Linked DNA regions of Homo sapiens: region 2 is linked to region 1. A link means that fine-mapping ties the variant in region 1 to the expression of a gene that starts in the linked region. Tissue or cell type: whole blood. Region 1 holds a variant in brackets; the other region holds the start of a gene. All regions are shown on one strand. Distances are between the middles of the regions. Region 1 overlaps SESN3 (sestrin 3). Region 2 holds the start of SESN3 (sestrin 3).

What was found.
Region 2: SESN3 starts here. The variant in region 1 is fine-mapped to the expression of SESN3 in whole blood (INTERVAL, PIP 0.99).

Annotation. Positions count from the first base shown.
Region 1 is chr11:95,205,652-95,214,670 of GRCh38, forward strand. The region is part of intron 1 of SESN3 (sestrin 3); the gene reads right to left. Among named protein-coding and RNA genes, the nearest start is that of SESN3, 21 kb to the right of the region's middle. The variant G/A (reference allele first, on the strand shown) is at 4,519.
Region 2 is chr11:95,225,936-95,234,441 of GRCh38, forward strand. SESN3 (sestrin 3) reads right to left here and starts at 5,267. Exons shown (of 10, transcript NM_144665.4): 1 at 4,848-5,267. The coding sequence starts at 4,925. It overlaps LOC100129203 (a long non-coding RNA gene), which reads left to right and starts at 4,251. Exons shown (of 6, transcript NR_110295.2): 1 at 4,251-4,560; 2 at 5,190-5,638; 3 at 6,117-6,241; 4 at 6,655-6,739; 5 at 6,945-6,984; 6 at 7,519-8,469. RefSeq lists silencers at 4,821-5,130, 5,141-5,290 and enhancers at 5,646-6,285, 6,286-6,925.

The DNA of each region.
Region 1 (9,019 bases):
AGACAGTAATGTGGAAGGATATGGGTTTCAAGGAGATGAAAGCACTGTCAAGAATCAAGTGTTTCATTATTTTAATTTGCATTTAAAGACCCAAACTTTTATTATACATTACACTCTAATATTTAATAACAACTTTATACTAGGTTATCTCACCACCTGTTCACAAACTTCTCAGTGAGTCTAATTTGCTTTCCATTTCTACTACTACTACCTCAGTTTAGCCTATCATTTTATCCTTAGTTTATTGAGGGGGTGGAGTTGGGGGAAGGACAGTAGAGGAAGAAAGGCAAGATCTCCAACATTCTGGCCCCTAACCTAACTTTTCAACTTTTGTTTTCCAAGTGTTCCCTTATATGAACACTTCACATAAGCCTCAACACAGTTCCTAAATTCTGTATATTGACTCATTCAAACCCACAGCGAGTTTTCCCGTCTTCCAGATTCCCATTTATATGATGCCTGGTATCATTTTGTGAAAGAGAAGATAAACCTCATAAAAGTGGTTTATCTTCTCTTTCACTAATTTAATTATAAAAGAAGTGTTCTATCTTAATGACTAATTCAAATCAGGTGCCCAATAAATGTTGATTGATAACATACTATTTCTATATATTACTCAGCCTATTATACATTTAATGATATTATGAACTATTTTTGAACCATAACCACCTTAAAATGTTTTTTGGCATCCTGGATTTATGCCAGTCCTAAAATACACACACACACACACACACACACACACACACACACACACACTCTTATAATTTAATAGAGTTACTTCATAACATCCAAAGTTTCTCAATTCCTGTTTTGGCAAGAAAATTCTCAGAGTGCAGTTTTTGATAGAAAGAAAAAGCTATAATTATGCTATAATTAAGATCTGTGAAAGTAATTATCTTCTAATGATCACAAAGACTTCCTTTAATTTGTCATTCTCTTGATATCTCCTCCCATTTTCCAGATTAGTTTGCATACAGATGCTATTCAGGCCCTTTTCTGTTCTTTATCTTTCTTTTTTAAGTAACTTAACTAAGGATAACAGGATTTGTTATCCTTAGCCTGTACTTAAGGTTTCAGTGTTAGTGTACTAAATCAATAGTTTTTCAGTTAACTCAAAATAAACAGTCATTCATATCACCTAAACATTACTATTTTTTTTTTTTAGACGGAATCTTGCTCTGTTGCCCAGGCTGAAGTACAGTGGCATGATCTCAGCTCACTGTAACCTCCACCTCCCGGGTTCAAGCATTTCTTCTGCCTCAGCCTCCCGAGTAGCTGGGACTACAGAGGCATTTTTTTTTGTATTTCTAGTAGAGACGGGGTTTCACCATCTTGGCCAGGCTAGTCTTGAACTCCTGACCTCGTGATCCACCCGCCTCAGCCTCCCAAAGTGTTGGGATTACAGGCATGAACCACCACGCGCGGCCAACATTACTACTTTTTAAGTACTGAAAGGACATCTGTGAACACCAGAGGCCTGCACTAGGCATTCTAAGTTTAAAACACTTACTTCCAAATCAAAGAAATCAACCAACCAATCAGTATGTACCAATTAAATTCATTGTTAAGCAGCTTATGTAATAGCTCTTTTAAGAACAGAAAGTACAAAAACTGCCTAAAGGGGTTTACAAACTACTTGGTAAAATTAGATATAGACACCCAAAGAGTAATAAACAAAGTAATATATACCTGAATGCTAGAGGTAAGGTGATACGATGAAAAAGGTACTAAAACCTGAGTTATTTTCCCTTCTTAGCACTGAAAGGATCAGAGCTTTGATCATTTTTCAAGGAATTAATTTTCACATTTAAAAAATGAGAGACATTCCGTGGGGCCTTTTTGCATTAACATTCTATGGTTATACAGAATGCTGTGAAAGATTCTAAATGCTGGTAGAAAGTTTTCAGAAAGAAAATAAGCTAAATGCTTTAAAATTACTTTCCCATTATTTTGCTAGTTTAAAAAATGTTTTATTTTAAAAATAATTTTACTTAACCTATTAATAAACTGATACGTTCTGGATTTTTGGTAAAATGTTATAAAACCAAGATTAGAAAAAGGTCTATTGTAGATATATATCATATAATATCATATAATTTACATAATTTAATAGCAGAAGAACTGTAATTTTAAATATGTCTAAAATTCTCTTCAATGTTCTATACTATATGTTTTTTTTGTTTTGTTTTGTTTTGTTTTTTTTGTAGAGACTGGGTTTCATCATGTTGCCCAGGCTGGTCTCGAACTCAAGAGTTCAAGTGATCCACCTGCCTGGGCCTCCCACAGTGCTGGGATTATAGGCGTGAGCCACCACACCCAGCTAATTTATGTTCTTCATAAATGATCCAGTGAACAAAGCATACCATACTCTAAAAAAAAGAAATAATAATAATCTATTTATTGTCAGGATTATGGTATTCAATGATTTTCTTCTTTCCTTAGTTTTTTAAAAAAAATGAATCAAGGGATTATTTTAAGGTATTTTATGTAAATGGTGAGAGTAGTCTTTTAAATAATCTTTATATGAATAACCTTTATAATCTAGTAGTATGAATAACTTTTGAAAGTCCTCCAAAATAATGTATGGACTTGTCCTCACATATTTTTATTTTAGAAATATATTAAATAATTTTAGCTCCAGCACGAAGTATTACTGGTCCTGTATATATTAGTGAGGTTTAACTTTATGTAACTGTTTTGTAGAGAGTTCATATAATCATGACAGGACTTCAAATACAGCTGTTCCTTCCCAAGAATGTAATCTCCAAAAAATACATTTTTTTCTAAAAGAAGAGCTGCATGATCATCAGTGTGCGAAATGTGTTTATAACTATCAGAGCATATGGGTTGGCTGGTAGGTAGTAATTCCTCACTTAAATGGCTACCATTGACTTTCTTCACAGAATTGAAAGAAACTACTTTAAATTTCATATGGAACCAAAAAAAGCCCATATAGCCAAGATGATCCTAAGCAAAAAGAGCAAAGCTGGAGGCATCATGCTACCTGGCTTCAAACTATACTACAAGGCTACAGTAACAAAAACAGCATGGCACTGGTACTAAAACAGATATATAGACCAATGGAACAGAACAGAGGCCTCAGAAATAACGCCACACATCTACAACCATCTGATCTTTGACAAACCTGACAAAAACAAGCAATGAGGAAAGGATTCCCTATTTAATAAATGGCGTTGGGAAAACTGGCTAGCCATATGCAGAAAACTGAAACTGGACCCCTTCCTGATACCTTAAACAAAAATTAATTCAAGGTAGATTAAGGACTTAAACATAAGACCTAAAACCATAAAAACCCTAGAAGAAAAGCTAGGCAATACCATTCAGGACACAGGCATGGGCAAAGACTTCATGACTAAAACACCAAAAGCAATGGCAACAAAAGCCAAAATAGACAAATGGGATCTAATTAAACTAAAGAGCTTCTGCACAGCAAAAGAAACTATCATCAGAGTGAACAGGCAATCTACAGAATGGGAGAAAATTTTTGCAATCTATCCATCTGACAAAGGGCTAATATCCAGAATCTACAAGGAACTTAAACAAATGTACAAGAAAAAAACAACCTCAACAAAAAGTGGGCAAAGGATATGAACAGACACTTCTCAAAAGAAGACATTTATGTGGTCAACAAACATATGAAAAAAAAGCTCATCATCACTGGTCATTATAGAAATGCAAATCAAAAACACATGATTAAATCATGATCATTAAAAAGTCAGGAAACAACAGATGCTGGAAAGGATGTGGAGAAAATAGGAATGCTTTTACACTGTTGGTGGGAGTGTAAATTAGTTCATCTATTGTGGAAGACCGTGTGGCGATTCCTCAAGGATCTAGAACCAGAAATACCATTTGACCCAGCAATCCCATTAGTGGGTATATACTCAAAGGATTATAAATCATTCTACTCTAAAGACATATGCACATGTATGTTTACTGCAGCACTATTCACAATAGCAAAGACTTGGAACCAACCCAAATGCCTATCAATGATAGACTGGATAAAGAAAATGTGGCACATATACACTATGGAATACTATGCAGCCATAAAAAAGGATGTTTGGCCAGGCGTGGTGGCTCACACCTGTAATCTCAGCACTTTGGGAGGCTGAGGCGGGTGGATCTCCTGAGGTTAGAAGTTTGAGACCAGCCTGGCTAACATGGCGAAACCCCGTCTCTACTAAAAATACAAAAATCAGCCGGGTGTGGTGGTGTGCACCTGTAGTCCCAGCTACTCTGGAGGCTGAGGCAGAAGAATCGCTTGATTCCAGGAGGCGAAGGTTGCAGTGAGCCAAGAACACGCCATTGCACTCCAACCTGGGCAACAAGAGTGAAACTCCATCTCAAAAAAAAAAAAAAAAAAAAAAAAGAAGGATGAGTTCATGCCCTTTGCAGGGACATGGATGAAGCTGGAAACCATCATTCTCAGCAAACTAACACAGAAACAGAAAACCAAACACCGCATGTTCTTGCTCATAAGTGGGAGGTGAACAATGA[G/A]AACACATGGACACAGGGAGGGGAATATCATACACCGGAGCCTGTAGGGGGTTAGGGGAGGGATAGCATTAGGAGAAATACCTCAGGTAGATGACAGGTTGATGGATGCAGCAAACCACCATGGCACATGTATACCTATGTAACAAACCTGCACGTTCTTCTTGCACATGTATCCCAGAACTTAAAGTACAATTAAAATATATATGTATATGGCACTCTACCTTGAAAAAGAAAATTGCTTATGGAAGTGGTTACTGCAAGGCCTACAGCCTGTAAGTTATGAAGCAGCAGAAGGATGATCTGAAATAAGACGTAACAATGTAACACCAGATATGAATGGATGGAGCTCATAATACACTGGTGAACTAAGGTGGAGGGTAGATGTTTGAAGTATGTATCCTAATACACAAAATTCACTGATATGCTCAAATCATTCCCTAATACATCAATTAAAACAAATTTTCATTAAGTGTTACAGCAGAACTGTGAGCATTTTGCATTCTACCACTACATCACTTAAGCATAGCTCTTATTAAAACAGAAAGGAAGACTAAAGAAACTTATTATTCCAATATACTAGATTCAAGACTCTTTAATAAACAGTTTGTATTTTTAAAAAGTTAATTTGACAAAGTTCACAGGCAAGATAAAGGGAATGAGAAAAACCCAAACTTGGTAAATCTGCTTTTAATTAGGACATAGAGTTCAGTATAAATAATACTCTATAAACATTCTTCTTTATATCAAAGGTTTGGCCAGACTAAAAAAAAGGAAAAAACAAAAGCAGCTAGTTTACAATTACACTTGCATTATGTGAAAAATTCAGAGAAAAAGATACCCAGTTTTATCAAGAGAAATGATAAGATGCTCTGACACAATTATAGTGGAAAAGAATAATAAATATCCCAGATAATCATTAATTACTTCCTGGTGCATAGAAAAGTATTCCAGTTCATGCAATCATGTAAACAAGCCAATCATAGCTTCATGTAGAAACTTGGGGCATCTCACCCTCTTTATTCTAGAAAGCCTGTCTCTCACTGCCCCTCGTTGTTCATTCTGTTCCAGAATACAACTTCCAAGTGCACTGCATGGTGTGCAGTGTCCTCTTCCCCTGGACTGTGAGTATATGTGACTAATAAACCACTGTTGATCTCATCTGTCCAGTGTTAGGTATTATACGTTCAGCCACCCCCATGACCCAAGAGTGGCAGTCCCTCCCACAGCAGTGGGTGAATAGAAGGCTATTAAAATAGGCAGTGAGAATATTATATGAATAAATATCTGTAAAGCTCTTAAGAGTGTGACATCATCTATACAACTATAAAAGGCTCATGCCTATAATCCCAGCACTTTGGGAGGCCAAGGCGAGTGGGCCACGAGGTCAGGAGTTTGAGACCAGCCTGGCCAATATGGTGAAACCCCATCTCTACCAAAAAAAAATACAAAAATTGGCTGGGCATGGTGGCGCACGCCTGTAGTCCCAGCTACTCAGGAGGCTGAGGCAGGAGAATCACTTGAACCCGGGAGGCGGAGGTTGCAGTGAGTCGAGATCACACCACTGCACTCCAGCCTGGGTGACAGAGCAAAACTCCGTCTCAAAAAAAAAAAGTAACTGCTGTTATTAGAATTATGCAATACTGAGTTCCTTAGTATAACACAACTAGACAACATGTTTAGAAATTGTCTTACAAGCTAAAGAAAAGATTTACAGAATAGGCTGGGTTTAGAAAACTATCAATTGGCTCAAAGTAGGTCATTAATTCGATATTTTGTTCAACAAATGACCCATCCTATTAGAAATGGAAAATAAAATTGGAAAGTAAAGCCACTTAAGTAAAAAACACCCATTTATAAAATAACTGGTTATAGATACTCTATAATGTTATCTATAACACATTTTGCATTTTTGAGAATTCAAATATATATTTTTAAAAATCATTAAAAATAGTCCACTGAAACCACATACCTAAGCCTTAAACATAAGAACAAGTATTTAATATTTAACTACCCTTCTTTTCCATACAGTAATGTATTAAATTAACTGAAACATTATCCATGCTTTCACAAGTGAAGATACATAATAATCTATTAACCTCTACAAAAAGTCAAAAGGTATAGTTTTCCATTTTTAGCTATCTTTATAATTATTTAGAAAACATCTTTCTCTCTAACCACAGAGTAAGCTCTCTAAAACCTAGGACAGACTCCATACACCTTTTTTAAGTCTTCAAAAATCCTAGCATACATATTAATTAAATAATTCTAAAATTACATTATATTATAAAGTAGCCATCTTTTTCTATTTCAGTTCCTAATAGATAATATCTCTAGATTAACACACAGTGCTCAGATTATATATTTAAATTCCTGAAATTTATACAGTAAGTTTTATTATCTACCATATGGTATAAAAGTAGAGCAATACAATTGCAGCTATCTCTTGAATTCATAATTAAGGAAACAAACTAATATTCTGATGAAATATTAATAAGCACATCAGATTCCTAAAGAGAATGATTGATATGACAACATAAAAAAATATGCTATAGATAGGCACAGTACCTTCATTCATTTCCAGATTGTATTGATCTATGTCTACGCATCTGAGCCCTCATTAGCCTCCTACACACACATTATTATTCCCTTGGTGATTTACCCATAGCTACTTTGGATATCTATTAAACCTGTGAACATTTGTCTTTATCTCAATGCATCTTTAATTTGCCATCTCATTTGAATCTGCTCTCTGTACTATCCATCACTTAAATTATCTCTTCTTCTCTATTATTTCAAATCAGTAATAGCTTTTTAAACTTTTATAAAATATGTGTTTATTGCTAAAAACAAAGGACAATGAAGTAGATGGTAAAAATAATCTCCTGTAACCCCACCACCCAGAAATTAATACTGTTAATTTTGGATTCCTTATTTATCTTTTTTTAAATGAAAACAAAAATCTTCATAGTCCTAAAAAATAAAAAAAAACCTTGGTCTTTTCCAATCAATAACATATTGTGGATGTCTGTCCACTTCTATACATAGATCAGTTGCCCAGTATTCCACTGTATTTATGTCACATAATTTGTTTAACCAATTCCCTCATTAACAGTAACCTCAGAGTATTAAGCATTTACTGATGATATTTTAAAGATGAGAGCTGATTCAATTGAAAATGACCCCTATACTGAGATAAGATTTAGTCAAGGGGCAAACAACTTTACAAAGGAAAAAGACAAAGTAAGATTACCGATGACAATGTGGTCTTATTCTCTAGCTTCTAATATACAGCACTGTCATTGACCTTTACTGAAAGCTAGGTGAACAAGCAGCTAGAATCAAAGGGCTCTGCCTTTAAGTAAGTGTGGATGCAAAAGAGAACAAGGGAGGCAGGCTGCCAGTGGAGTCTTTTAAATAGGATAGGTGATCTGTAGACCCCAAATCGTAGGAGTTGGCTGAAAAAAAACTGGCATAATTTGTTAAGCTTTTATTTTTAATCGTTATTGCTTCCAGTGTTCCATGAGATAGCTCTGTTTAAATGTAATTATGAATGACCCATAATTTAGTCAGTATTTTTATTCTTTATGAGAGTAAAATTACAACCAGAGCTAGGCAACTCTTTTTTTCTCAGGCATGGACCCAATCCTATATCTAAGCTTCTCTAGTTCTCTATCAATCTGAAGATAATAATTATCATTCATTAATTCAGAGAAGGAATTCGGTAACATTTCAAAATACTCAAATAAAAAGTCCTATGTAAAAAAGAAAAAAGAAAAAAAGATAAAAGTTCTGCTACCTTAACCAGTCATGCAATAACTGACAGGAAATATTCTCATACCTTACTTTTGCCATACTGCTATTTTAGACCATGAAAATGCTTTTTAAATTTTCTTTTTTCATGAGATTCAAAGTCAAAAGCTGACTGTCCATTGCCATGGAGACAGTTCTATTTAAGGTACTATATTAGCCCTTTCCTCACAGAAGGATAGAAAAATGGTCACTAGAAAAGCATCACCTACCATGGTTTAGAATTAAGTAATTACATATGCTTCTGGGGCAGCCCATGCGTAAGGAACTTTGGAATTAAAGTGGGGTAATTTAATACAGCCTGTTATTCACATAAGTAACATCAATACAGGTTAAATTGTAGTATTAACTTAGAGGTAATATGAGGAAAACACCCATTACCTCAAAATTAGATACAACCAAAGAACAAAATAAAATGACTTATAGTTACTGTCCTAGATAGAACTGCAACTAACTGAAACAATCTTTGCTTTTCAAAGAGCAATCTTCTATTTACCTATGGTCCATATATAATACACATGGCTTGGGTTTCTTCTGTTTCAATTTGTAGGCCTCCTGTCTCCAAATGGAGACTTTCTGACACTCCATTTTTAATTGAAGAGTAAGCTACTATAGGTGAAAGAGAACATCCATAATTTATATATATATATGTATTTAATATTGTCCAAGAGATTCAAAAGAATTTTTAAAAAAC
Region 2 (8,506 bases), 20 kb after region 1:
TAATTATTCGAGAATCAAAAGTCAATGCCTTGCTATTTAAGTGCAGGGGTGGGAAAGGGGCAGGGAATACAGACAGAAATATGGAAATCAAAAATAAGTAAAAAAAAAAAAAAAAGTCATTCTGACTAAAAGCATAATCTTTACCTCTCATTTACAGGCAATAATTAAACAGGACAGAAAAGTGAGTATTAACCAAATTACTCAGTATGTATTGAAATATATTCCCATAAGACGGAAAGAACTAACATAGTCTGGGAAAATGGAAAAATATATGGACTTGTCCTTTTCTTTCTTACACGGTTTATAAAGTTCATTAACACACATCTATCTCTCTCCAACTATACAGCAATCTGTAAGGCAAGTAAAAATTATCAACATTTTACAGAGAAAACTCTGCTTTGAAATCAAAAGATCTGTTAAAGACCTAACTGCAACCACATCTGTGGCTTCCAGTATCACTACATTAGTAGTTATGTTTTCTATTTATTTAGGGTGGGGAGTTGGGGGAAGCAGCAGAACACTTTTTACAAATTAAATCTTCTATTGAACCTGAACTATAAAGCATATAAATATACCAAGCAACTTTCAAGTATTTTAGTAATAAAGTTACAACTACTGATAACAATAAATTTGTGTTCTCACAAGTAAACATTTAACTTAAGTAAATATGGAAGGAATTCTTTTTAAAAAGCCAGTTCCTTCACAATCAATGACAATCTTTCTCATACATGACACAGTAACAAAAAAAAATTCAAATATCTGTACAAAGATAGCAGAACAAATTGTAATTCAAGACCTGCACAAGAATAATTTTGTAATGAAAGATAATGGTGTTAGACTCCAGTTATTAAAATTATGTGTACATATTTGGGGGTACCCATATTTTTAAATTACAGTTTTAAAATAAGTTAAAACATACTTAAAAATTTAATGCAACTCAAGCATTTTAAAACCCCAAAGAATCTTAAGGGTCCATACGAAGCAGTTTGAAAACCATTGCATAAAGGTTTGCCATCACTAATTAACTACTTGATCTCTGCTTAGGATATTTAAGATAATCAAGTTAAAAACTGCCTTTGACAATCAAAAATATGTAACACAAGAAAACTGATTAACCAAGGCATAATGTAACTAGTGGTCCACAGATAGAGCAAATACATTTTATTGGCTAAACCATATAAAGTTGCTATTACTTAACAATTTTGACTATAAAAATGAGGCTCATATAGTTCAATCTAGTATTTTTCTTTTTTTTTTTTGTCTTTTTTTTTGAGACAGAGTTTTGCTCTTGTTGCTCAGGCTGCAGTGCAGTGGCGTGACCTTGGCTCACCACAACCTTGGCTCACCACAACCTCCGCCTCCCAGGTTCAAGTGATTCTCCTGCCTCAGCCTCCTGAGTAACTGGGACTACAGGCACACGATTCCACGCCCAGCTAATTTTTGTATTTTTAGTAGATATGGGGTTTCACCATGTTGGCCAGGATGGTCTCGATCTTTTGACCTCGTGATCTGCCCACCTTGGCCTCCCAAAGTGCTGGGATTACAGGCGTAAGCCACCATGCCCGGTCCTCAATCTAGTATTTTTCATTTTGACAGTATCTTTGTTTATAAAACCATCAAAAAGATGTCAAAATATATGATCATATAACAAAGTGAAAAGTGCAATAACAATACAAAGATATATCACTATAACTATCTTAACATTAAAAAAGTTTAAATGTTAGATCCTCTAAAGAGCACAAAACTATTCATTTAAGTAGCACTAACTGCTCAATACCCAAAGTACATTGGAATATGCCACTTTTTTATTTACTGGAAGATGAGTGGACTGATAATTACCTACCTTCCTCAATGCAGTTTGACACATGACTTTTCAAATTAAAGGATTATGTTCTTCTAGTTATCACTAGAATTTCTTCAAGTAAAAGATTAAACTTAAAAACTCGTTAACTTTACAAAATAAATAGAAGCATTTCCTCTTTTATTAAAAACTTTACTGAACTACCTCATTGACAATAGAGCAAGTTAGACTTAAGAGTTAGGGATTTCAGGATAGTTTTGATGGTTAATTTATTTATGGATATGGTTTACCTCTCCATTCTTTTTACTGTCCTAAGGTTACCAAATTAGGTACATTCAATATTTTAATAAGTCTCTTTATTTTGGAGGATACTAAATCAAAACCGTAAACGGACTTCTAAGAATAAATGTAATTCTCATACAATATATAATTCAATATTCAGGCATTGGGTTAAACCATATTATTTCATTTGAAGGTGAATTCCATTCCTTGTGAAGTTCCCCTAAAATTCAACACACTGCAACAAATTAAGCCACCTACTGAGAGAATAACACTTTCTGTCCCATATAAAGGTGACCCTTCTTCCATCATTATATAGAAATATAAAAGCAAAAGTAATTCACACTGGATGAGCATGAGTTTCATTCTTCCATTATGAATTAGACTGAACAAACATTCAAAATACTATGACTCACTTGGCTACATTACTGAACACTTTATTAAATGGAAAACAAGATAAACTCTAAGAATCACATTTTGAGAGTTATAGATGACTTTTAACTTAGAGTTATATCAACAAGAAAAACATGTCTTTATTAGAAATAAACTTTTCATTGTTATTTTAAGAATGATGAAACATTTAAAATGCTACATACTGATTCTCTTAAGAGCACTTCAAAGTGGCACTCTTTAAAAAGCTGCAAATGTTGCCAAGTCATGTTATAACTGGCTCAAAGAATCCTATTTCCATTAAGTTATTTCATGCCACTGCATGAATCAATATTAAATACCTTGGAGTTACTAAAAACTGGAATACTGGCAGAGATGTGCTCAGCAATTATAAAATACGAAAATGTGAATACTCTTTTTCCACGTTTCTTTTAATAATGGCTAGAAATGAGGATGTTCTTTCTAGGTAAACAGAAATAGTTTCCTAAAAGCTAAAGGAAAGATGTAATATCTTAAATGCTAGCAAAGTGTCATGGATCCATAGCCATAGCTCTCTCAAAAGAAAAATGAAATACATTTTGAAGCCTAATATTACCTCCAAACATTTTATTAGCCTAACAAATTGCCAGAGCCATTAAAAAATTTTTTTATCAAAGTCAATACAGTGCTCTTTTTCCTTATTCAATTAAAAAGCATAACTTGCTGTCATTTTAACCAGGCTGCACTTTAATCAAACATGTCTTAAATGACACATTTTTTCATGTCAAAGACATAACATAAATTTAAAAATTAAGAAATAAATTTTTTTGAAAGCTAAGTTCAGATGACATCTGGCCCTGCAGTGAAAGAGTTAACATCCAACTAAGCTGATCTGCACTTCTGATCCATTACATTTCTCACAAGCTACCCTACAATGAGCTGAGCAAGTATCAACTGTAATTTGATCCTAGAGTTTATGGAAAAAAATAACTGCACATACTCAACATGCACATTTAATAAAAATCTGTTTCAAGAGAAACATATCCAATAAACACAATTTAAGGCATATTTAACTGTTCAATTAACCTCAAATCTGCAATCCCTTTGCTCTCACGCTCTCAAATAAAATAGGAAGAAAAAAAAAAGCAGCAGCCCTACTGCAGGGAAAAGAGGCTTGAAAAACAACTTTGATTGGCACTTGGCCTGACCCACAGAGGAAGAAAAACAGTTTTTGGACAAAGAGCGCAAATATTTGAGCTTGCTTACTTATGTGCTTTTTTCTTTCTTCCTTTTTTAAAAAAAAATGTAGAAAGAACAATCCCAAAGTGAACCGTATTTAGAGATGTTGACTAAAAACGGTACCATATTCATCTCCGCTTTCAGTCCCGATGCATTTGCACAGCTCAGCAATTTTAATTCATTTGTAGTGAACAAACAGAAGCATCTCACCTAACGTTTCCACTTAATAAAATGTAAAAATAGAGTTTGAATACGAATAAACTGATTATAATATTACTTTGGGGCAGCTGTTAAAATCTGATCAAAAAGTCTAGAGACCTTTTTTTCATTCCCTTCCCCATCCCTCTCGCCCTTCCCCGCGGGGCGATTAAGCCAAGTAAGCTAAACAATACTGGAGTAAACTTTCTATCAGTCACTCTAGGAAGCAGCAATAAACTGATGGTGCGCCTCATTTTTCTGGATCAACACGGGGGCAGGGGGGTGCTAAGGAGGAATAACCCACATCCACCTCAGTCTTCTCCTCCCCCAACCCCAGCCTCAGGAACTGGCCAGGTCGAATTGCATTTCCCATGGGCATAAAGTTCAAGATGCTTTACTGGTTCCTTTCGAGACTGAACTACAGACACAGGACTACCATCCAAACAATTTGAAAACGGGGGTTGTTGAGCAAGGCGCGCAAGGCAGAAGCAACCGAATAAACAAAAACAACACTCGCAAGAGTTAGCCACAGCAAAGAGGGGCCAGGTTCCTCGGGATCCGACCCAGCTGCTCTGATTTCACACCGACCTCCATCAACAGCTAAACTGCACAGGGAGGAGGATCGAACGGATCCCTCCCGCCCTCCGCCCAAGGAGCCGACCCGGGGTAGCAAGGTAGGGAAATGAGCCGTAAAGGAGAGCAAAGGCACCAAATAAAAGGAACAAGGGAAGAAAAAATATCCCAACCCCTCCAGACTTGGGTCTGTCCCGGCGGAAATAAAAAGCCGCAGTAGTCCAAACCCTCCTGCCCTCAACCCACGCCCCCTTTCTCAGTCCCTGCGGAGGGACGGTGCCCGGGGATCCCTCTCAGCCTCCCCCAGTGCGCGCCCGGGGACGAGCCGCCCGAGCCCCGGCCGGCAGGAAGCGACCCTCGCCGGCAGGACCCCGGGCCGAACCCGTACCTTCCGCAGCACTTTCCGGCAGTTGGTACAGAGCAGGTAGTTGGCGGCGGCCGACGGGCTGCCGCCGCCCCGGTTCATCGTGGCTGCGGGCGCCGAGGCGAGAGCGGGCGGAGGGCCGGGTCCGGGCTGTCACTGCGGCCACTGCAGGGCCGGTCCGTCCCCCCGCCGCCAGCCGCGATTCCGCCTCAGCCTCCTCAAGGCGGGATGTCGGGAGGAGAGGCGACTGCCTGAAAGCTAGCGGCACTGCCAGAGGCGACCACCGCGGCAGCTGCCCCAGCGACGGCGGAGACGGCGGCGGCTGCTCCTCACCGGCCCGTTGTTCCACCCGCCCCCATCTTCCAGACCCCCGCCCCCGCCAGGCTAGGACGAGCAGCCGCCACCGCTGCCACCGCCACCACCGCCGCCGCAGCGCCTCAGTGCGGCCCCGCCTCCGCCGCCCCACCACCTTCACCACCTCCACGCTCCGGTACCGCCCCTCCCGCCAATCGGACAGCTCCGGCTACGCCCCCAGGGCGCTAGCCCGCAGCCAATGAGCAACGAGAGCCCGACTGGGAGTCGCGCCGGCCAATCGCAGGGGCCGAGGAAGCCTTGAATCTCCGGGCAAGTTAAGTTTATCTCCGAGGCTCGGAACTGAAGGGAGGTGGCGGTTAGCTAAGTAGTAGGGTAGCAGGGAACAGTTTGCTCTCCTCTGCCAATAAGAGGACGAGGGTGTGTCATATGCAAATATACTGCCCTCCAAGCCCCACCCCCAAGATAAGCTACGCCCCCTTCTCTAGGTCCCTGCAGAAGTGGTGAGGAGAATGAGATAAATAGTTGGGAGCTAGAGCTCGCTAGAGAGTCTAAGATTGAGCTAAATATTTCCTGATCTCTCGAGAAAGGGGGAGGGGAGTGGGAGGATTAAATGTTCCTTCCTTCAGGGCAGTGGTTAGGCTTTCTCTCCACCAAAATCTAACTTTAGCTGTAAAGAAGACTGCAGTTATGTAGTACTTTGTATCCAGGGATCTCAAAGAACTTTACGCATCATTTATTGTGAACCTTGTTTTGCAAAGATTTCAGTTACTTGAGGCTTGGGAGGCGGATAGGGGATAAATGTCTGAGTTATATATATATTTACGCAAGTAATCGAGTTTGAGGGGAGAGACACAAAACCTCTGGTTTAGCGGTTTCCTCTTGTTTGTGAAGCACCTTCTAGCAGTTATCTTAGAGATGTAAGTTCATTTACTTGTCCAGCACTAAAAGGCCAAAGGGGCTTGTTTTCTCACCCAAAAGACCTTCCTGAGGCAGCTGTTCGGATACATGCAGAGCACAGCGCCCTGCTCAGAAAGGAAGGTTCAGAGAACAAATTGTCGTTTAAAACTATTGGGACAAACCTACCTCTTCTAAAGCTTAAAATGGTAAGTCAGGGTTTTAGCGTCCACGTTCTGCGGAGAGAAGGCAGACTTGACTGGGGAAAGCGCAGGCTGACCGAGTGTGGCGGGACAGACGGGTAGGGGAGCCAGGTCTCCCGAAGGGGCTAGCAATGCGCGTCCGAGTCGAATGCGGGTTCCCGATGCTAGACGCCCGCAACCTGCTCCCGAGTGAGAACAAAGGCCGGCGCAGAGCGAGAACCTGATTGGTGCCCGGTCCTCACTCGTGTCCTCCGGGCCCCAGAGATAACTTGCATCGCCTACTGGCAAGGAGCTCTGTGCTCACTGGAGCCCAGCTCCCCACCCGGCCATGGCCGTGGCCACAGGACTGTGCATTATGACATCACCTGTTTTCGATTTTTAGAACCTAATCAGTATTCTCGGCTTCTCCCTTTTTAAAGGTCTCCAGCGTACCAGGATTTGTGAAGGCCTGAAGTTCGTAGAATGAAATCTATGTGGAGATGATTTAAAAGAACGGTTTCACTGGTTTGCATTTCTTTCTTTTCTTTTTAATTAAAAAAAAACAACAACCCTGGTTTCCTTAGGGATTCAGGGTGGTGTTATGCAAAATCGGAAAGGTACACTTGGAGGAGCTAGCAAGTTTAGCATATCAAAGCTATTAGACCAATTTGTGCGGTTAAAACTGCCATTCTCATTTCTCAACAGCTGTCTCCTCTCTGTCCCTTTTTAGAGACCAACACATATAAACCAAGTCTACACAAGAAACAAAGGTAATGGAAATCTGCTAGTATCAGGTTTAAATAGATCAAAATAGAGTAGAAAACCCCAAAAGGGTCTAAGTTATGTAGTTGGGTAAAGGTGTTGATCTATTTAGCCAGTGTTAGCTAAAGGTCGCTTGATGCTGTGTAGACATACATAACTAAAGAGCAATGAATGGTGTGGGGAAGGTGCTTAAGATTCAGTTAGAAGAAACTGTAAAAGCAAGTAAATTCAGAAAAGGAGGGAATTACCACATGCCCTTCGATGCAGAGAACCAAGAAATGCAGGGAGAAAGTCAGCAAGGCACAGTTTTTCTAAGAAACACATATGTGTCCCCATTTAGTGGTAAATTTCTTGGGCTATATTCCTGGCTGGTTCTGGCTTTTAAAGCAGATTTTATGTGAGTACATTTTAAAGGAAAGGAGAAATTGAAGGATGAAGTGAATTTTTGTGCAGATTGAATTTTCTCAAATAGAATTTTAAATTCATATTGTTTTCTAGCACATTCTTCTTATAACCTTTTCTTTTCTTTTTTCACTTGACAGCTAAAATCCTTTCGAAATGAGTTCCTTTAAGTTCTTCAGTAACTAAATCCTCCAGAAAGGAAAGCCGAGAGAATCTAGTCCTATACAATAACACCCTCTAACAAAGATCGCTAAAGGAAGATTTTAGTAGATGAATATCTTCAATAATACATGGTCACATACATGTATCTGACCATATGATGGCTCTCTGCACCAAATTCCTCCAAACTATTATAATATGTATTGTCTGTAGTGCTATTTATTTGGCAGTTAATCATGTATTACATTGTGACATTTCTTACAGTGAACCATTATGTATGTGTTTATGTTCTGCCCTCAACTACTCAATGCCAGTACCTTATTCTTAACACAGCAACCACCCTTTCTGGTCTGTCCTCACACCCTCATTCCCATCATAGTTATTCTCCTCTCTCATGGAAATGTTCAGTTTCTGGACATCTCCTTTCTCTTCCATTCTTCACCTGACCTTCCTTCCTTTCTTGGCCAGCCTGAATATTATAAAGGGAATTTTATTTCAAACCCAGGATCGCACTTAAGAGGAAAAGAAACAAAAGCCAGTTCTTTTTATTGCACATAGAACAAGGAGAAACTCCACCCCTTTTGTTGTCTGGTATGTTTAAAACAAGAAAGAACTTTAGAAAAGTAGGATATGAGTGAAAATTACAACCAATGTTGAGAACTACTTTTTAATTTTTTATTACAAAATTAGGATGATACTTCATTAAACATTGTACATCATTTCAAAACTGTTATCTCATAATCATGTTGCTTGTTTTGAATTATTCTTTTAAAGTGTAATTTTTTTAAGCAAAGAATCCATAAAATTACATGGCTTGGATGTACCATAACTTACTTAATCCTTATGCTATTGTTTAATATGTGGGTTGTTTCAGATTTTTCATGATTGTAAATAACAAAATAAACTTCCTTATACTTAAGTTTCTGGCAGAATCTCTGATTCCTAGGCCTGGAATTTCTGAGTAAAAGG